6 separate regions of the Homo sapiens genome follow, and regions 1, 3, 4, 5 and 6 are each reported to be linked to region 2. Evidence: microRNA targets listed by miRTarBase, many of them from high-throughput screens and not tested one by one. Region 2 holds a microRNA gene; each other region holds the end of a gene's coding sequence.

Region 1 (3,000 bases), not on the chromosome of region 2:
CCCCTGCAGCTGCTCTGGGTAAGGGAGCAGGGCCAGCATTCTATCTCACTGCTGTTCTCTGCTCTCCCCGCAGGTGGAAGGCTTTAGGGCCACCATGGCGCAGCGCCTGGTGCGCGTGCTGCAGATCTGTGCTGGCCACGTGCCCGGTGTCTCAGCTCTGAACCTGCTGTCCCTGCTGAGAAGCTCTGAGGGCCCCTCCCTGGAGGACCTGTGAGGGTGGCTGGCCCCTGGGCTGCCCCTTCTCATGGCTTCGTGCTGACTCCATAAACATTCTCTGTTGAGGATGTCCAGTCAGGGCTTGACAGGCCCAGGCTCAGCCCGCCGTGGCTGGGAAGGTTCCCTGCAGTGCCAGTGCTGCAGCAGGGAGAGCTGGGCAGAAGCAGCGAGGGGGCCCAGCTGGCGAGACTGTAGCCCCCTCCCACTCCCACACTCACTCTTGCAGAGCCTGTGTCTTTAAGCAGCTGGCGTGTTACATCTCCATTTAAGGTTTCCTTTGAACAAAAGGTCTGTGGCTAAAAAAAGTTTAAAAATCACTGGTCTCATTCACCACTTTGACTTTGTAGATGAGGAAACTGACTCAGAACAATTAAGAGTAGGGCAGGGTGGGCCAGGTGCAGAGGCTCACGCCTGTAATCCCAGCACTTTGGGAGGCCGAGGTGGGTGGATCACTTGAAGTCAGGAATTCGAGACCATCCTGGCCAACATGGTGTATCCCTGTCTCTACAAAAATACAAAAATTAGCCAGATGTGGTGGTGGGCGCCTGTAGTCCCAGCTACTCAGGAGGCTGAGGCAGGAGAATCACTTGAACCCGGGAGGCGGAGGTTGCAGTGAGCTGAGACTGTGCCACTGCACTCCAGCCTGGGCAACACAGTGAGACTCCACCTCAAAAAAAAAAAAAAAAAAAAGCGAGACCAGCCTGGCCAACATAGTGAAACCCTGTCTCTACTAAAAATACAAAAATTAGCCAGGCATGGTGATGCAGGCCTGTAGTCTCAACTACTCGGGAGGCTGAAGCAGGAGAATCACTTGAACCTGGGAGGCGGAGGTGGTGTTGAACCGAGATTACACCACTGCACTCCAGCCTGGGCAACAGAGCGAGACTCCGTCTCAAAAAAAAAAAAAAAAAATGCTGGGCGCGGTGGTTCCCACCTATAATTCCAGCACTTTGGGAGGCCGAGGCGGGCAGATCACAAGGTCAGGAGATCGAGACCATCCTGGCTAACAGTGAAACTCTGCCTCTACTAAAAATACAAACAAATTAGCCAGGCATGGTGGCGGGCATCTGTAGTCCTAGCTACTTGGGAGGCTGAGGCAGAAGACCGGCATGAACCTGGGAGGCGGAGCTTGCAGTAAGCTGAGATCGCGCCACTGCACTCCAGCCTGGGCGACAGAGCGAGACTCTGTCTCAAAGAAAAAAAAAGGAGTGGGGCGGGGTAAGGGGAGCTTGGACTCGTTATGCCAGTCAGACTCCACATCCTGGCCCTGCTATTATAGAACCTGGTTGTTGCCTCTTGGAGCTTGTTTTCTCAGATGTGAATGGAGATGAGGTTCTGCTCACCTTGTCACGTTGGGAGGATTGAATGAGACGATGGACATGCCTGGGACTGTGTGACCCCCCATGCCTGCGAGTAGGTTGCTGTGTTCATAACATGTGTTAATGCCTTGCACCTTGCTAGGTAGGCACTCAGTGAACAGTAACTATTTGAAATCACATGGAAAGCCGAGGCGGGCGGATTGCCTGAGCTCAGGAGTTTGTGGCTGGCCTGGCAACACGGTGAAACCCCGTCTCCACTAAAATACAGAAAATTAGCCGGGCATGGCAGTCTGTGCCTATAGTCCCAGCTACTTGGGAGGCTGAGGCAGGAAAATTGCTTGAACCCAGGAGGCGGAGGTTGCAGTGAGCTGAGATCGTACCACTGCACTTCAGCCCAGGCAGCGGAGCGAGACTCTATCTCCAAAAAAGAAATCACACAGCGGAGTTCAAAAACTGGTGCAAATTAGGAATTACACCACTGTCAGAAGTTTGCAAGAAGTGAGAAAAGCTGGCTGGAGGTCTCATTTTGGGGTTGATGGCGAGAGATTGTACAGTGCCAGTTGCTTTCCTTCTCCCTTGGGTCTAATTGGAGATTGTAGAGGCATCAGAAGTGGACTCTAGAAATCCCATAGAGAGCCAGGTCCTGACTCCCTTGGAACATGACAGTGCCCTCCCCACATTCACCCTGCATGTGCCAGGGCATGCCCACCAGCCTCAGGCCTCAGGATGGACCCCAGTTGAAGCCCTGGGCAGCACTGCACCAGCACCTCGGGGCCTGTCTGCTTTTTTCTTTTTTTTTGGTTGGTGGGGTGTGGAGTCTTGCTCTGTCGCCCAGGCTGGAGTGCAGTGGCGTGATCTCAACTCACTGCAGCCTCTGCTCCCTGGTTCAAGTGATTCTCCTGCCTCAGCCTCCCGAGCAGCTGAGATTACAGGTGCACGCCACCATGCCCAGCTAATTTTTGTATTTTTAGTAGACACAGGTTTCGCCATGTTGGCCAGGCTGGTCTCAAACTCCTGACCTCACGTGATCTGCCACCCTTGGCCTCCCAAAGTGCTGGGATTACAGGTGTGAGAGTCACCGCGGCCGGCCTAAGGCCTCTCTGCTTTGATGTCACCATCGCAGCTGGGCCCATGCCCTTCACTGAGGGGTGGGCCGCCTTCTAACTCCTTGTAGGTGTCGGGGATGCGGCCCTATCTGCCCCTTTCTGTAGGTTCCTTCTGGAACTTAGCTCAGGCCCCACCCCTAGTGCTCAGTAAGGGTTTGTAGACACCTGGCTGACTTCCTGGCAGTCCCTTGGGCTCCGCTGAGGACTTCAGCCACGTAGATTCCGGTCGAGGCCCCACATGTCACCCGACATTTGCAGGCACGTCATGCTTCACAGAGCTCTTCTCACACAGCAGACCTGTGAGGTAGATGATGTTTCCCCAATTCACAGTTCATGAAACAGACCGTTGTCATGGGAGG
Region 2 (3,658 bases):
GGGTTCTGGTTCTGTCTTAACTTCTCTTAGTTTCTCTTGCCCTGTGTGGGCTTTGTCTTCAGGCTGGCTTTCCTCGGCAGGGCAGGCCTGCCAGTTGTCTCTGATGAAGACATACTCTCTCTGCAGGAGTTCATCCCTGAACAAAATACCACAGCAAGGGGAGTGGGGGATGCCCTGATTGGGCTAGACTGGTCAGGCCCGGGCTGATGCTGGGATGCACGGGGGAGTCAACCCCACACAAAACCCAGGTGCTTCACAGTGGGGGTGGGGTGGGGTGGCAGACAGGAAGGGAGGTTTATTCTCACTCCATTGACAAGGCTGATGAAAAGAACCACTAGGAGAAGAGCTACTATAAAACTCTGCACATATAATTATTAGGGATGAACAATGCCAGGTTGTGCTTGATGGGCCTTCTAAGTCCTTTTGGAGCCCTCTCACTTTCTGGTAAGCCTTTAGACAAAATCTGCTTTGCGATGCCTCTAGAATGGGGCAGGTGGAAAGCTTCCTGCAATTACATTCCTTTTATATAATGTTTCTCCACCAGAGGTTTGCAGTTTTATAGGATTCACCTGCCAATTGGCAACTGATTTGAGACACGTTAGTGCATCAGCAGAAGTGGGGGACATGCCGAGGGAGCAGCCTGGTGCTTGGCGGAATGTATCCTCTAATCACTTTTCGCCAGAAAGACCCTTAAAGCAATTATACGCTTCTGCAAAGAGAACTGGAAAAGGGTTCTGGATACTTTCTCCTCTTAATTAACCAAAGAATATGCCAATTCTTTTTAGAAAGTAAACTTTTTTCCCTAGTAACTATATTGTCCCATATCTGGTTATAATTTGTGTCTGAAGTAAGTAATTAATAGAGGACTGCCAGAATTTATGAGAATAAGAAACCCCATGAGTTCACGCGTGCACACACACACACTCAGAGGACATTGATATAGTTTGGATACTTGTGCCCTACAAATCTCACGTTGGAATGGCAACCCCAATGTTGGAGGTGGGCCTAGTGGGAGGTGTTTGCATCACAGGGGTGGATCCCTCTTGAGTGGCCTGGTGCCATCCTTGCAGTAATGAGGGAGTTCTTGCTCTACCAATTCGCCCAAGATCTGGTTATTTAAAAGAGCCTGAGACTTCCTTCTCTCTCTTGCTCCCTCTCTCACTACGTGATATACTGGCTCCCCTTCACCTGCTGCCATGATTGGAAGCTTCTGAGGCCCTATGCTTCCTGTATAGGCTGCAGAAGCATGAGCCAAATAAACCCCTGTTCTTTATAAATTACCCAGTTTCAGGTATTCCTTTATTGCAAAGTAAACAGTCTAAGAAAACTGCTGTTTTCTTTACTTGTAATGTGCTTTTCACTGCCTAGCTAAAAGGAGACAATGGCCTCTGTAAAGCACCTTGTCATGGACAAGTGATGCTGGCATATCATTATAATTGTGACCTATGAAATCTTTGCCTATTCTCAGGTTTCAAATATTTTTCTCCTGACAGTTCTATATAGTATACCCTGCTTATCTGCTGGGGACATATTCCAAGACCCCCCAGTGGATACCTGAAACCATGGATACTAAAGAACTGTATATATACTGTGTTGTTTTCCTATATGTATTATTATAAAGTTTAATTTATAAATTATATTATATTATATATAATATTATATTATTATAAAGTTTAATTTATAAATTAGGCACAGGAAGAGATTACAGCAAATTATAATAAAACAGACAATTATAATGATATGCCAGCACCACTATTCTTGCACACTGGGGCCATTACGAACTAAAATAAGGGTTACTTGAACATCAGCACTGTGATGTCACGGCAGTTGATCTGATAACCCAGATGGCTACTAAATGACCCATAGGCAGGTAGCATCTACAGTGTAGATCCACGAGACAAAGGGATGATTCACATCCTAGGAGGGACGGGACAGATGGCCTGAGATTTCATCATGCTACTCAGAACAGCACACAATTTAAAACGTATGAGTTGGCCAGGTGCAGTGGCTCACACCAGTAATCCCAGCACTTTGGGAGGCTGATGTGAGTAGACCACTTGAGCCCGGGAGTTCAAGACCAGCCTGGGCAACATGGCGAACTCCTATCTTTACAAAAAATACAAAAATTAACCAGGCGTGGTGGTGCATGTCTATAGTCCCAGATACTCAGGGGGCTGAGGTTGGAGGATTGCTTGAGCCTGAGAGACCAAGGCTGCAGTGAGCCAAGACTGCGCCATTGCACTCCAGCCTGGGTGACAGAGTGAGATTCTGTCTCAAAAAAATTTTTTTAAAAAGGGATGAATTATTTATTTCTAAAATTTCTCTTTTAGTTTTTTGGATGTGAGTGGATGATGAGCCACATGTCCCTTTGGTTGGCTGAGGGTAACTGAAACCATGGAAAGCAAAACTGTGGTTAAAGGGGGACTACTATAATTTTAGCTGTATTATGTTTAGGTCTATCATCCATATTGAATTAATTTTGTGCATGAGTTGAGATAGGAATTGAGATTCATTTTCTTCCCCATATGGATATCTATTTTTCCAGCATCATTTCTAGAAAAGCGCTTACTTTTCCCATTGGAGCTTCGGTGGCTTTGTCAGTCATTAAGTAACCTTATAGGTGTGAGTCTAGGTCTAGGCTGCCTGTTGTGTTTTATTCATGTATTTGCATAAACTTGCTTTGTGTACATTAGCTTGGCTACTGGAGCCTCAAACTCAGGTTGTGGAAGTCCTCATATTCTGTCTTGTCAGTATTAATTTAGAGATCCTAGGACCTTAGTATTTCCATATAAATGTCAGAATCAATATGTCAGTTTCTCTGAAAACTTGACCTAATTATCAGTCAGATTGCATTGAATCTATAGATCAATCTGAGGAGACTGTATATTATAAAAGCATTGGGTTTTTCAACTTATGAACATGAAATGCCTCTCCATGTATTTAGGTCTTCTAAATTCATAGTTTTCTGCATAGAGTTATTAAATACCTTTTGTTAACCTTATTTCTAAGTATTTAATGTTCTAGATATCATTATAAATAAAATTGGTTTTTAAACTTTTTTTTTGCTGGTAGTAAATCGAAATATAATTGATTTTTTCAGATTGATCTTGTATTCTGTGACCTTGCTATTTTTACATAAATTCCTCAGGATTCTCTTTGCAAACAATGATGTCATTTATACACAAAGGGAGTTTTACTTCTTAATTTTCAATCTTTATGCCTATTATTTCATTTTGTTTTATTTTACTGCCTAGGACCTCCAGTACAATGTTGAACAGAAGTGGTGACAGTAAACATTTTTAGCTTGTTCTTGATAATAAAAGAGGACAATATTTCACCATTATCATAAATGGCAGTTGAACTTAGGGAAATAATGTTTCTGCTTATGAAATGATTACATATTTGTCTTCTCTTTCGTTTTGTTAATATGGTGGATTACATTGACAATTTAATATGTTAAATCAACATTGCACTCTTGTGATACACCTACTTCTTCATGGAATATGAACTTTTGCATGTATTTTTGTATTTGATTTGCTAGTAGTTTGTTTAGGTTCATGAGGGATATTCTGTAGTTTTCTTTTATTGTAATATATTTGCTAGTTTTTTGGTATCAAATTTATATAGGCCTCATAAAAGTGATTCAGACAGTGTTCTC
Region 3 (3,658 bases), not on the chromosome of region 2:
GCTAGAGGATTGTAAATGCACCAATCAGCACTCTGTGTCTAGCTCAAGGTTTGTAAACGCACCAATCAGTGCTCTGTGTCTAGCTAATCTAGCGGGGACTTGGAGAACTTGTGTCTAGCTAAAGGATTGTAAACGCACCAATCAGCACTGTGTCTAGCTAAAGGTTTGTAAACGCGTGTCTAGCTAATCTAGTGGGGACTTGGAAAATTTTTGTCTAGCTAGAGGCTTGTAAATGCACCAATCAGCACTCTGTGTCTAGCTCAGGGATTGTAAATGCACCAATCAGCACCCTGTCAAAACGGACCAATATGCTCTCTGTAAAATGGACCAATCAGCAGGATGTGGGTGGGGCCGGATAAGGGGATAAAAGCAGGCTACCCGAGCCAGCAGCGGCAAGCCACTCAGGTCCCCTTCCATGCTGTGGAAGCTTTGTTTTTTCACTCTTCACAATAAATCTTCCTGCTGGTCACTCTTTGGGTCCGCGCCGCCTTTAAGAGCTGTAACACTAACCGCAAAGGTCCGCAGCTTCACTCCTGAAACCAGCAAGACCACGAACCCACCGGAAGGAACTAACAACTCCAGATGCGCTGCCTTTAAGAGCCGTAACACTGCTAAGGTCTGCAGCTTCACTCCTAAGCGAGACCACAAACCCACCAGAAGTTAGAAACTCTGGACACGTCCGAACATCAGAAGGAACAAACTCCAGACACACCATGTTTAAGAATTGTAACACTCACCGTGAGGGTCCACGGCTTCATTCTTGAAGTCAGCAAGACCAAGAACCCACCAATTCCAGACACATTAGGGTGGTAGGCCAGGCATGGGGGAGATCCTACATTCCAGGTACCCCTAGCCCTTCCCCTAAGCAGGCTAACCTTGGGGATTCCCTGGAGATCAACCACTTCCAGTGAGAGGGAGTGGACAAAAGCCTCTGGACCAGCCATTCCTTCTCTCTCTCCAAGTCCTTTTTCCTCTCTAGCATCAAAACCAAGCCTAAGTATTTTGAGGTTACATGAACATCTCTCCCCTTCTTTTCTGTGGCAGAGTCCCTTAGCAAATAGAGGCACTGGGGCCTGAGTGGATAGCTCTCCAAGGTACACTCATTGACACAGGGTATCAGGTAGGGCTAGCCCCAGCCCAAGGGAGTAAGGCAAACTGTCAGAACCTGGGCCATATGGGCCCTGGAGTGTGAGGAGAGACAAATGGCTAAAGGCCCTGGCACCATTCCTGGATGTAATTTAGCCACCCGAGCATGGCTAAAACACTGGGTACTGAGATTGGAGGATTTAAGAGGAGCTGTGTTTAAAATACCCTTAAACCTGGTATTGGAAGGCTGATGATGCAGCATTGCTAGATCCCTGTCATTGAAGGCCAAGGTGGCGTGGCTATGTTTAAGTCCTGAGTCTGAAGAACTTTTAGAGTGTGGTTAAAGAATCTTGGATTTGGGACTGGAGGGTTAGGAAGGGGACCTGGTAAAGGTGTCCCTCAGATTGTAGGGCTGGAGACTGAACTCTGAGTAAAATCTAAAGGTGGGGTAGGAGAGGAAACAGCAAAGGCTAGAGATGTAGAAAAAAATAAAGCAGGAGAGTGTCATGGAAGCTAATGGAAGAACACAGTTGCAGAAGGAAGTAGTCAGATGCAAAGACCATTCCTCCAAGGGGACCGTCACTTGACACCTCTGCTCTCAGAAGTTAGATCTCTGTCATCTTCACATCTAAAGGAATGTAAGGGGTCAAAAGACTGTCCCCAAAGCTCTTAGAACAAGAGTGGGGTGGGCGTACAGTGGATAGATTTGACTCCAAGTATCTCTTAAGGGGCCACTTCCAGCCAACACCTTACTCTCACTCCATGAAGGTTTCTCCCGAGTGTGTCCTCTGACACGTGACAAGTAATGATGTCCACGTACAGCTCTGTCCACATTACCTTACAAACAAGGCTTCTCCCTAAGCATTTCCGCTGGTGTGGCTGATGGCTGACTTGTTGCTAAAATCACATCCTCACTCCTTGCACCTCTAAAGCTTTTCCCCGAGTGTATCTTCTGGTGTATGATGAGCTGTGACTTTCTCCTAAAGCTTTGCCCACACTCCACGCATGCATAAGGCTTCTCCCCCGAGTGTATCCTCTGATGTAAGCTGAGAGTGGACTTGTGGCTAAAGTTTCGCCCACACTCGATGCATGCGTAAGGTTTCTCTCCTGTGTGTGTCCTCCAGTGTCTGTTGAGGAGTATCTTCCGGCCAAATCCCCGCCCACATTCCCCACACACATAAGGCTTCTCCCCTGAATGTGTCTGCTCGTGTGCGAGGAGAGTTGATTTATCACAAAAGCCTCGCCCACACTGGCTGCACACATAAGGTTTTTCCTTGGAGTGTGTACTCCGGTGGTAGTGGAGGGTTGACTGAGCTATAAAGCCTCGCCCACACTCTCCGCAGACATAAGGCTTTTCTCCTGTGTGTGTCCTCTGGTGTCTGATGAGCTGTGATTTCGTGATAAAGCCTTGCCCACACTCCGTGCATGCATAAGGCTTCTCCCCAGAGTGTATCCTCTGATGTACACTAAGAGCGGACTTGAGGCTAAAGTTTCGCCCACACTCAAAGCACGTGTAAGGCTTCTCTCCCGTGTGTGTCCTCCAGTGTCCATTGAGGACTATCCTCCGGCTAAATCCCCGCCCACATTCCCCACACACATAAGGCTTCTCCCCTGAGTGTGTTCTCCGATGTGATTTGAGCGACGACTTCTGGCTAAATCCATGCCCACACTCCTCACACACGTGAGGTTTCACCTCTGAATGTGTCCACTGGTGTAGGAGGAGAGTTGATTTAGCACGAAAGCCTCGCCCACACTCTCTGCAAACAAAAGGCTTCTCATCTGAATGTATCCTCTGGTGTGTGTTGAGACATGATCTCCTTACAAAGCCTCGGCCTCAATCTCTGCACACATAAGGCTTATCCCCCGTGTGAATTCTCTGGTGCTTAATGAGCTCTGACTTTTCACGAAAGCCTCGCCCACACACTGTGCACATAAACGATTTCTCCCTTGTGTGTGTCCTCTGATGTCTGATGAGGTATGGCTTGCAGCTAAAGCCTCGCCCACAATGGCTGCACACATAAGGTTTCTCCCCGGAGTGTGTACTCAGGTGGTTGCGGAGGACTGACTCAACTATAAAGCCTCGCCCACACTCTCCGCAGACATAAGGCTTTTCTCCTGTGTGTGTCCTCTGGTGTATGATGAGCTGTGACTTCCTGCTAAAGCCTCGCCCACACTCCCTGCACACCTGTGACTGCCTTTTGTCTGAAGATTTTTCTGCTGTGACTGCCTTCTGTCTGAACAGGTTTGACTTCTGGTTAAAAGCTAGTGCACACTCCCCAAACGTGACTGCTCCAAACCCTGGGGTTTCTGCCCTCTTGGAAATTCTGTCTACTTCCTCAGAGCTTGCATTCTGGGCTGGACTGAGCTGTATCTCTAATATTCTGTTGCCTCCCCAAGAGCTTATTGGTGGTCTCTGGAACAGGCTAGAGAAACCCACTAAAGCCCCCCTTTCATTTGTACTCCAAAACAAGGGTCTGACGCCTCCTTCCACTCGTTGATCTTCTGCTTCAGCCCCCCTGTGATTTTTATCAGAAGGATGTTGTGACTGTGGCTGATCCTCTGGGCAGGGATT
Region 4 (3,000 bases), not on the chromosome of region 2:
GTGACTGGTATTTTATGCTAAAAATAGGAATAGTATGTTTTGAATGGCCATCTGTCAGTTTACGTTTTTTAAAGTAAGGGGAATATTGTTAGGGAAGTAGACATCCACTGTCTCCTTGCCGGGGAGAAGTAGTACAGAGTTTGGCAAGTGAGGAGCATGGTTTGCATCCATGCACTGGGTCAGATCTCAGACCTCAGTTCTGTGAGACAGAGTTCCTAGGGAAGCATTGGCTTATACTGTGTTATAATAAGTGAAAAATCTGTTACTTTTAGGTCTTGCTGGCTTTTTCCCTCTGCATCCTATGATGATCACAAATGCTGAGAGACTGCGAAGGAAACGGGCACGTGAAGTCCTGTTAGCTTCTCAGAAAACAGATGCAGAAGCTACAGATACAGAGGCTACAGAAACATAAATGAGCTGACTTTAGTGAGCATAGCAGTGGGAACAAGGTCAAGGTCCTTTTGAAACACTGCAGCGATCTTAATTTTGTTAGATTTGGAGTTCAATAAATGGAGTATCCTGAGTTGCCCTTGCTCTTCTGGCCTGGCCTGCACAGGGCCCAGGGAGAGATTTGTTCTTGTGTGACTTAGAGCTGGGTGTGGGTACTAATTAGCTTTTTTCGACTTTGTCTTGGGATAGACAGTGGCTATGGGAGGATTGGACTTTTGAGTTGGGCTCTGGGTCTCTTGGACAACTTTACAATTTACTGGCTTCCAAGACTTCCTGCTTCAAAACCCCCAGCCAGACTATTCATGGCCCATTCAGATCTTCATGTTCATCCCACAAGTGCAAGAACAGTTAACCTTTCTTAATTGATTTTTGTAATTGGAGGTTTATATTGTCTTGCCTAATGCATATTCTCTTTTTTTTTTTTTTTTTGAGACGGAGTCTTGTTCTGTTGCCAGGCTGGAGTGCGGTGGTGCAATCTCAGCTCACTGCAATCTCCACCTCCTGGGTTCAAGAGGTTCTCCTGCCTCAGCCTCCTGAGTAGCCGGGGAGCTACAAGCATGCACCACCACACCCAGCTAATTTTTTTTTTTTTTTTGAGAGGAGTCTCGCTCTGTCGCCCAGGCTTGAGTGCAGTGGCGCGATCTCGGCTCACTGCAAGCTCTGTCTCCTGGGTTCATGCCATTCTCCTGCTTCAGCCTCCCGAGTAGTCCCAGGAGTAGCTGGGACTACAGGTGCCCACCACCACACCCAGCTAATTTTTTTGTATTTTTAGTAGAGATGGGGTTTCACCATGTTATCCAGGATGGTTTTGATCTCCTGACCTCGTGATCCGCCCGCCTTGGCCTCCCAAAAGTGCTGGGATTATAGGCGTGAGCCACCGCCCGGGCAAATTTTTGTATTTTTAGTAGAGATGGGGTTTCACCGTGTTGGCCAGGATGGTCTCAATCTGACCTTGTGATCTGCCCACCTCGGCCTCCCAAAGTGCTAGGATTACTGGCGTGAGCCACCACTCCTAGCCTTAATGCATATTCTTAAATATACAAAGGTAGATTTGTTATGAAAATTGCTTTGGGGCTCTAATAACCTACCTTTTAAGAATGAGAAACTGCTGGGCTTAAGGGAGTTCAGTATGAATCAAGATTGAACCATTCAAATGTGGCTGTGATTTCTGCATATATCATAGATGGGATCCTTCTGAGAATACTGGAATAGGGAATTAGGACACCAAGCCAATTCAGCTGTGAACCTTATTCTTGTACTTTTCTTTCTTGCTGGTAATTTTATGGAGCAGGTTAAGAAGGCTGCTCTGTGTTAGGATAAACTGTATACCAATAATGTTGACAACCTGTAATGAGTGTTGCATTTTACTTCTTGTATCTTTTCCTTCCTACCTTGATGCCAGTAATCTATAAGGGATCTTTATAGTTTGAATGTATTTGAATAACTTCAGTATACTTTAGTTCTACTTTTTTATTTGACTCACAACCATTCTTAGGTCTCAAGTATTCCCATGTGTTTTAAAAGCCTGAAGTCAGTGAGATGAAATTCAACATCAAGAATTTGAAGTAACTTGTAAGGAAAAATAATATAAAGATACCATTGGGGCAGTGGCTCACACCTGTAATCTCAGCACTTTGGGAGGCTGAGGTGGAAGGATCACTTGAAGCCAGAGTTTGAGACCAGCCTGTGCAACACAGCAAGACCCCGTCTCTACAAAAACTTAAAAAATTAGCTGGCTGTGGTGTTGCTCACCCATAGTTCCAGCTACTCGGGAAGCTGAGGCAGTAAGATCACTTGAGCCCAGGAGGCCGATGCTGCAGTGAACTGTGATTGTTCCACTACAGTCCAGCCTGGGTGACAGAGAAAAGAAAAAGAAAACATTACATAATTTGGCTAGAGCATAATAATTTGATTTTCTGGTTTTTGAAAATTTGAGTTGCAATAAAAGGATATTTCAGTGTGCGATTTCAATTTTCCGTAGCAAATGTATATATAGAAAAATGTTAAAATAGATGTATTTGAATACCTTAAAAAATACAAGAAACTGGAAGAAAGATAATATTGCAAAGCATCTACATATATCCTAGGCCTTTTGTGTACAAGGTTATTTGTGACAATTGTAAGGTATTATGAAGGCAGGTAGGATTATCTCCGTTTTACAGATAGGGAAGCTGAGGCCTAGAGGTGGAAACTTGCCCAGTGATGTAAGATTCATCTCCCGGTTATGCCCTCCTGGAAAGCCCTTCCCAACATATTATGTTGTCCATAGAGGGAAAAATGAGCAAAGACAGATGGCTTAACTCTGGTGTGTGACTAAGATATAGGAAATTTATAGAGGAGGTTCTATCAATGTGCCGACTTACTTTGTGTTTTATGTTCTGAGAACGATTACCAGCCATCTCAAATTCTGTGGTTGTCAAAGCTCCCCTGGGGTTGTTGCTGGTTGGCCCCCACTTGCTTTGAGACTTTGATGCCAGGGCAGGTTGAGAGGAACTGACTTCAGCTGAGTTTGATCTTGGATCTGGGAAAGAGAAATGCTTTGAAAATCAC
Region 5 (3,552 bases), not on the chromosome of region 2:
GTCCCCAAGAGTGGGCTCCTTCACACCAGGCACAGTACCTCACTATAAACTCAGCCTACAGACCTGATGGCCAAGCAGTTCCCTGCTGGGCCAAGGAAGGGCTGGAGGAGGATGGCAGGGCCACTTGGATGCTAGCCAGGAGCAACTGGAATGGGAAATTCTTAAGTGTCTCTGATATGGCACAGAATGACCTCAAAACTCAGGTGATAAAATTCTTGGATAAAAAGAATTGCTGGGTGTGGTGGCTCACAGCTGTGATCCAAGCACTTTGGGAGGCTGAGGCGGGCAGACTGCTTAAGCCCAGGAGTCCTGGGCAACGTACAAAACCTCATATCTACAAAACAATATAAAAATTAGCTGGGCGCAGTGGCACACACCTGTAGTTCCAGCTACTTGGGAGGGTGAGGCAGGAGGACTGCTTAAGCCCAGGAGTTTGAGACTGCAGTGAGCCATGACTGTACCACTGCACTCCAGCATGGGGGACAAAGCCAGACCCTGTCTCCCTCAGGAAAAAAAAAAAAAAAGCTAAAAGCCAGAATAGGCAAATATATAGAGATAGATATTAGACAAGTAATTGCCTGGGGCTAGGAGGTATATGCTGCGGGAGAGCAGAACAAGGGAGAAGAGAAAAGATGTGCGTACCAAAAGGATGTGAGGCCCTGAGCCCAGGGCAGGTAAGGCATGGGACTGCCTTATTTTACCCTGGCATTTAGGACAGTACTCCACAAACCACAAATTCTTATAAATCACAGCCAGTGAAAGTATGCTCAAAATCCAGAAAGCTCTTTTAAAAAAGGTCTCAACACTTTGAGATGTTAGTCTTGAAATAAGTTAATGTTTCAAATTATATTCATTCCTTTAAATGGATTAAATTGCTATTTCTTGACCCGGCAAAATTTTACCTTGGTAGATCATTCAATAAAGCAGCACTGTGCCCTTCTCTAAGTCTGTGGTGTTGTACCGGCTCCTGCCATCATTTTTCACAGCTCTTTGAGGAGCAAAGAGGTGGAGGACTTGGTAGACACTAAGTAGCAAGTTGTGATAAGAATCAGAAACAGACACCAACTTCTTGAATCTCAACTAAGGTTTCTTTAGCCACATTCTACACAAAGATAAAATCTTAAGCCATTCATTAAAATCTTCAAAATTATATGTATTTGATAATAAACATCACATAGAGCAAATGGTTAAGTCACTAACACATTCTCTTTAACAGCAATTTCAGTTTTATAAAACTACTTTCAGATATTGTTTCATTTTGTATCATGATTTTTAAGTTTTCTCACTGCAGCTGGAATTAATTTCGTTACAATGAGAGGAGGAAGGGTTTAAAAATTAAAACGGTGTCTTCTAATTTTAAAATGTTAATTTAACAAAATATTCCATCCTATTTCAACATTATTAAACATAGGCCAGGCGTGGTGGCTCACGCCTGTAATCCCAGCACTTTGAGAGGCCAAGGTGGGTGATCACGAGGTCGAGATCGAGACCATCCTGGCCAACACAGTGAAACTCCGTCTCTACTAAAAATACAAAAATTAGCCGGGCGTGGTGGCATGCGCCTGTAGTCCCAGCTACTCGGGAGGCTGAGGCAGGAGAATCGCTTGAACTTGGGAAGTGGAGGCTGCAGTAAGCCAAGATCGCGCCACTAGCACTCCAGACTGGCGACAGAGTGAGACTCCGTCTCAAAAAAAAAAACCAAAAAACAAACAAAAAACCATTACTAAACATCAAAAGAATCATTCAAATACACTGGTTTTATCAAAAAACATGAAAAAGCCAAAATATAAATTTTCATGTTAGCTAGTCTTCCAATTTCATTTTATCCTAAGCAACTTAGGTCTCAGTTTTGTAATGTGACATTAATATAATGTTTATGGATGGGTGTGATGGCTGATGCCTGTAATCCCAGCACTTTGGGAGGCCCAGGTGGGCGGGTGGCTTGAGCCCAGGAGTTCAAGACCAGCCTGGACAACACAGTGAGACCCTGTCTCTATGAAAAATTGAAAATTAGCTGGGTGTGGTGGTGCACACCAGTAGTCCCAGCTAGTCAGGAAGCTGAGGTGGGAGGATGCCTTGAGCCAAGGAGGTCAATGCGGTGAGCCATGATTGTGGCACTGCACTCCAGTCTGGGTGACAGAATGAGACCGTCTCAAACAAAACAAAACAAGAAAACAAAAGATAATGTTTATCATGTCCACCTCCACAGGACAATGAGATGTAATTATAATAGGAAATATGATGGGTATGTTTCAGGGAGAATGAGCACATCTACCAGTACTGAATCAGCTTTGATGTTCAGAAACATCAAAGAAATATGGTCTCATCACTTAACACAGATGATACCTTAGAAGTTTCGTTTGTTTCTACTCTAAATAGAAGGGTCTTCTTTCCAGAACGACAGATCCGATACACTGTGGAAGAAAGAAATATAAGGAATTACAACCTAAACCCAAAACTGGCCCCAGGAAGAAACTAGTTGGAATGGCAGAAGGAGCTCCCAGCTAAGAGCTGTGTTGGCTGGGCCAGCTCTCTAGGCATCAAGAGGGGAGTGGACTCAGGTGGGCTTGAGTCCTCAGCAAGAGAGAGACTCCAAATGCTGCAGCTGTGACACCCCACAGTGCTCTGAGTAACCAAGGCAGTGGCGGCGGGGTGACAGAGGCTGTTCTTTCTGTCACTGGGCTCCAAGGGGCAGGAGCAGCGGGGTGAACACACTGAAATGCAAGACTGACTGTGCGCTACAGGCCGTGCTGAGCTAGAGCCTCTGCCTGGAGGGAAAGTACCAAGCTCCCAGGCAACAGCTTTACGAATTCTGGCTACTACACCAAGTCTAAATACATGACGATTTTCACAACATCAATGAGAAATTGTTCTTTAAAGTCTGAATAAATAAATTCTAGCTTTTCTTTTCAGTGTCTTAAAAACAAAGCAAAACAGACATGAGCAACATGAAGTGATATGTTTATCCAACTGTGTGTTGTTGAATCAACTTTTAGTTAAAATGTTAGAGAGGGACAAATAAGTACAGTGTGTCGATGTGCGGTGCTGTGAGGGCACAGACCAGTGATCAGAACACAACACCTGCGGCCTCTCCCATCCTGACAAAGTCTCTGCATGCCAACTCCAGCGACAGGGTGCTAGGACAGCGCAGGGATGAAATACTGAAGGGACACGTCTTCATGAAGCAGATCAAAATGCACCATCTTGTTATTCACAATATCTGGGAAGAGAAAAGCCATGATTTTAGAGACCTAGTGCAGCACACACATTTTGATCTCTACTTTTTCAGAACAGCCTTCCCAGCCTGCACCTCCTGTTTTAGGCATCTGTCTTCCCTGAGGCAGCTGCAGAGACCACAGTCTCTCACTCTCACTGCCACAGCTGAGGCTACATCACGGCCCCAGCACTGGCGGCTCCCTGTGCGAGGAGAGGAAAAGTGAAGCGGCCCAAGCCCTTGGCAAAACACCCAGCAGGCTGGCTTCCTGGCAAACCACATTCACCCACATGAGCATCCTTCTGCAGCGAAGAGCAGCTCCTCACCAGTGAGTGGAG
Region 6 (3,658 bases), not on the chromosome of region 2:
TAAAGATATAGATAAAATAGGAAAATACAATAGAAAATTGAGTACATTAAATAATCTTTCTTTAAGCTTAGAGTATTGCCTTTATTTATCATATGGCTAGAAATAACAAAGGTCTTCAATTTTTTGCCCATCTTGGATTGAAATTAATATTTACTGTCTTCAGGATTGTTTATTACAATCACATGAAACGAATTTTATATTTTTGCCAAAAGTAGGCTAAGAAAGCTGAGTGCATTAAAGGTATATCTTTTCTATACTTATTCCTAACTTACCCAGTTGAGAAGGAATAAGATATTCATTTTTTAGACTCCAGTTTAAAATATGAAAGACATTGATGTTAGTTTTCAGTTTTGAGAGAACTAAATCTCCCTACTCTATGAATGGACCAACTGATAATAAACTTTATGTTCTTCAAGGTGGAAGGAAATATTTAGTAAGTATAAAATAAAAATAGAAGAATGGACCCTAGAACTGTTAAGCCTACTCAGCATTTGATTTTGAATATATATGCATGTACTATTTGTTATCTACTATGTAAGCATAACAGATTTTCCTGAATGTGATATTTTACCATTACTATTCTGTTGGACCTCCAAAGTATATTGTAATTACAAGACTGTCTTTTTTTTCCATCAGAACAACAACCCAAAGTGCGTGGTTGGCTTCTGGCTAGCCTTGATGGCCAAACAACAGGACTTATACCTGCGAATTATGTCAAAATTCTTGGCAAAAGAAAAGGTAGGAAAACGGTGGAATCAAGTAAAGTTTCCAAGCAGCAACAATCTTTTACCAACCCAACACTAACTAAAGGAGCCACGGTTGCTGATTCTTTGGATGAACAGGAAGCTGCCTTTGAATCTGTTTTTGTTGAAACTAATAAGGTTCCAGTTGCACCTGATTCCATTGGGAAAGATGGAGAAAAGCAAGATCTTTGATATCTTTCATGTTTGCCTGCAGTTGAACAATACTTTAGAGTACTTTTTAAAATTATTTCTCACAAAGAAATGAATGTACAATCCAATGAAAACATTTGTTATTGGCTATTTCAGGTGTTTTGCTGCTAGAAATTATTAAAGTTACACACTAGTATGTTGGTCTGGTGACCTGGTTACATTTTATTATACACATTATTGGACCATAAGGACATTTGTTTCACCTAGATTTTAAGATTATGGAGACTGCTGTCATTTTTATCTTATTTAAATCTCTAGGTTTATTGGAAGAGTAAGATTGATGAACTATAGCATGCACAGTTTGGTACAGTAGAGATCATTAATACTTTTAAAAGTTCTGCATTAATTGACTTGGAATCCTTAGAAATGGAGTGGTGACATGTCAGTATGAGAACAGGCAAAAGGTAAATTTTTTTTTTTTTTTACAACCTTAAGTAATCTCAATAATAAAATTTTCTGATCTGTATTATATCCAGTGTTGGGTTTATATTTTCACCCACAAACAACTGACACTGCTATCTTTTACTGTATTTTTAAAAATTTAATTTGAAAAGGTCACCCAGAAGCATTCTGAAGGAAATGGTTCTAGAATTATAGAGTATGTAGCCCTAATAGTTTTCCCTCCTAGCAAAAAGTCTGAAATTTATCTTTCTTACAAACTGTTCCATTTCTTCTAAGGATCCCTTAATTATTTATCTCTTTAAGCCAGGCATGGTGGCTCACGCCTGTAATCCCAGCACTTTGGGAGGCTGAGGCGGGCAGATCACCTGAGGTTGGGAGTTCAAGACCACCCTGACCAACATGGAGAAACCCCATCTTTACGAAAAATACAAAATTAGCTAGGTGTGGTGGCACATGCCTGTAATCCCAGCTACTCGGGAGGCTGAGGCAGGAGAATTGCTTGAACCCCAGGAGGCGGAGGTTACGCTGAGCCGGAGATCTCGCCATTGCACTTCAGCCTGGGCAACAAAAGCGAAACTCCATCTCAAAAAATAAAATTATTTATTTCTTTAAAATATGACTAGTTTTCATACTGGGTGAATCAGAAGTATATGAAAGGTATACTTTCTTTTCCTACAACAAATACTTGAGTTCTTTTGAGTTTGCACTTAATGATATAATCAGTTATAATAGTAATTTTTAATATTTTCATAGATTGTTTGCTTCTACCTTGTGTAATTTTTTAAATTCCATATTTAGGATGCTCTGTAAATATTGAAAATGTGTCACATTGGATACATTTTTCTTTTAGGTTTAGTTTTTACTACTGAGACTTATTTATAGTCTTAGTGCTCTATTGCCATTTAGAATATGATAATCCTCATGCCTTTAATCTCAGCACTTTGGGAGGCCAAGGCGGGCGGATCACCTGCGGTCAGGAGTTTGAGACCAGCCTGGCCAACACGGTGAAACCCTGTCTCTACTAAAAATACGAAAATTAGCTGGGTGCAGTGGCGTGCACCTGTAGTCCCAGCTACTCAGGAGGCTGAGGCAGGAGAATCACTTGAACCCGGGAGGCAGAGGTTGCAGGGAGCTGAGATCATGCCACTGCACTCCAGCCTAGGGGACAGAGCAAGACTCTGTCTCAAAACAAACAAACAAAAAATAATAATACGATAATGCTATTTGACGTGTTTTTTGGTTTATAATGATTTTAAATGCAGTTAACTTTCAGTACACTGAATATTTCCCCAGAAAATTGGAAACTTCATATACTTGGCTACGAACATACTACAGAGTAATACTATCAGGAATACAGGTGTATAAGAATACATTTATAGATATTGTTGAAAACTTTGAACTGTTTGATAAAAATTGTGATTTAGTATTTTTTCTTTTGTCTTTTTTTGAAACGGAGTCTCACTCTGTCGCCCAGGCTGGAGTCCAGTGGCGCGATCTCGGCTCACTGCAAGCTCCGCCTCCCGGGTTCACGCCATTCTCCTGCCTCAGCCTCCCGAGTAGCTGGGACTACAGGCGCCTGCCACCAGGCCCGGCTAATTTTTTTTGTATTTTTAGTAGAGACGGGGTTTCACCGTGTTACCCAGGATGGTCTCCATCTCCTGACCTCGTGATGAGCCCGCTTCGGTCTCCCAAAGTGTTGGGATTACAGGCGTGAGCCACCGCACCCAGCGATTTAGTATTTTTTTCTAATAGACTATGTTCAACAAATAAGTAATTCTCGAATAGTTCAGATTAAAACATACAGGAACCAAGTACATACCCAGCATAGAAGAACTTTACTAAAGGCTTCTTGGAAAGCCCTTTTTTGAAACGACAGTATCGTAAGTAACATATCATTTATAATAGAAATCTTGACCCAGTGCAGAAAAATAAATATAGTAAAATTTATTTATCTTTGGCCAGTTTTCCAACACCCAGGTATTAGCCTTGAAGTTGAAGAGATAAGGTTTCTTGTATATTATTTTTCATTTGTGTTCTACAATTAAAGGTTCTGCTTTGATTTGTCAGATAATTTATAGAAATTTTGTTCTCAAAACAAATGTTTGATAAAACAGATTATTAAATTTGGGGTTGAGATGTCTAAATTGAATGCTAGAAGTAAAGTAGAAGTGACCACTATTAAAGATGTATAGGGAGAAGAGTACAGCACAAAGTGATAAAATAGTGACACTTTTGTAGGGGTGTTTATTGTTTGGTTAAGTCTGCTAAATTACGGTATGCATTATCTGGTGACTATTTGTGCC

Evidence for each region. Region 2 holds the annotated microRNA hsa-miR-3929 (GAGGCUGAUGUGAGUAGACCACU, at 2,036-2,058, shown strand). A microRNA usually pairs through its seed, bases 2 to 8, with sites in the 3' UTR of a target mRNA and lowers its output. Matches are read on the target gene's strand: a 7mer-m8 pairs with bases 2 to 8, a 7mer-A1 pairs with bases 2 to 7 and ends in A, and an 8mer does both.
Region 1: the mRNA of CENPM is a reported target of hsa-miR-3929. The part of its 3' UTR that is shown has no 7-base or 8-base seed match.
Region 3: the mRNA of ZNF589 is a reported target of hsa-miR-3929. Seed matches in the 3' UTR shown: 7mer-m8 at 1,331-1,337.
Region 4: miRTarBase lists MRPS16 as a target of hsa-miR-3929. Seed matches in the 3' UTR shown: 7mer-m8 at 976-982 and 7mer-m8 at 1,142-1,148.
Region 5: the mRNA of HUS1 is a reported target of hsa-miR-3929. Seed matches in the 3' UTR shown: 7mer-m8 at 1,584-1,590.
Region 6: the mRNA of PEX13 is a reported target of hsa-miR-3929. Seed matches in the 3' UTR shown: 7mer-m8 at 1,908-1,914, 7mer-A1 at 2,510-2,516 and 7mer-m8 at 2,900-2,906.

Annotation. Positions count from the first base shown.
Region 1 is chr22:41,936,270-41,939,269 of GRCh38, reverse strand. It overlaps CENPM (centromere protein M), which reads left to right. Exons shown (of 6, transcript NM_024053.5): 6 at 74-533. The coding sequence ends at 214. Among named protein-coding and RNA genes, the nearest start is that of CENPM, 9.4 kb to the left of the region's middle. RefSeq lists enhancers at 2,479-2,538, 2,579-2,718, 2,759-3,000, 2,380-3,000.
Region 2 is chr18:35,932,488-35,936,145 of GRCh38, reverse strand. MIR3929 (microRNA 3929) reads left to right here and starts at 2,004; the gene lies at 2,004-2,058.
Region 3 is chr3:48,268,049-48,271,706 of GRCh38, reverse strand. It overlaps ZNF589 (zinc finger protein 589), which reads right to left. Exons shown (of 4, transcript NM_016089.3): 4 at 717-3,658. The coding sequence ends at 2,921. Among named protein-coding and RNA genes, the nearest start is that of ZNF589, 29 kb to the right of the region's middle.
Region 4 is chr10:73,248,264-73,251,263 of GRCh38, reverse strand. It overlaps MRPS16 (mitochondrial ribosomal protein S16), which reads left to right. Exons shown (of 3, transcript NM_016065.4): 3 at 273-2,415. The coding sequence ends at 412. It overlaps DNAJC9-AS1 (DNAJC9 and MRPS16 antisense RNA 1), which reads right to left. Exons shown (of 4, transcript NR_038373.1): 2 at 2,814-2,971. Among named protein-coding and RNA genes, the nearest start is that of DNAJC9-AS1, 2.4 kb to the right of the region's middle.
Region 5 is chr7:47,962,219-47,965,770 of GRCh38, forward strand. It overlaps HUS1 (HUS1 checkpoint clamp component), which reads right to left. Exons shown (of 8, transcript NM_004507.4): 8 at 1,070-3,220. The coding sequence ends at 3,138. Among named protein-coding and RNA genes, the nearest start is that of PKD1L1, 16 kb to the left of the region's middle.
Region 6 is chr2:61,047,836-61,051,493 of GRCh38, forward strand. It overlaps PEX13 (peroxisomal biogenesis factor 13), which reads left to right. Exons shown (of 4, transcript NM_002618.4): 4 at 637-3,658. The coding sequence ends at 935. Among named protein-coding and RNA genes, the nearest start is that of SANBR, 16 kb to the right of the region's middle.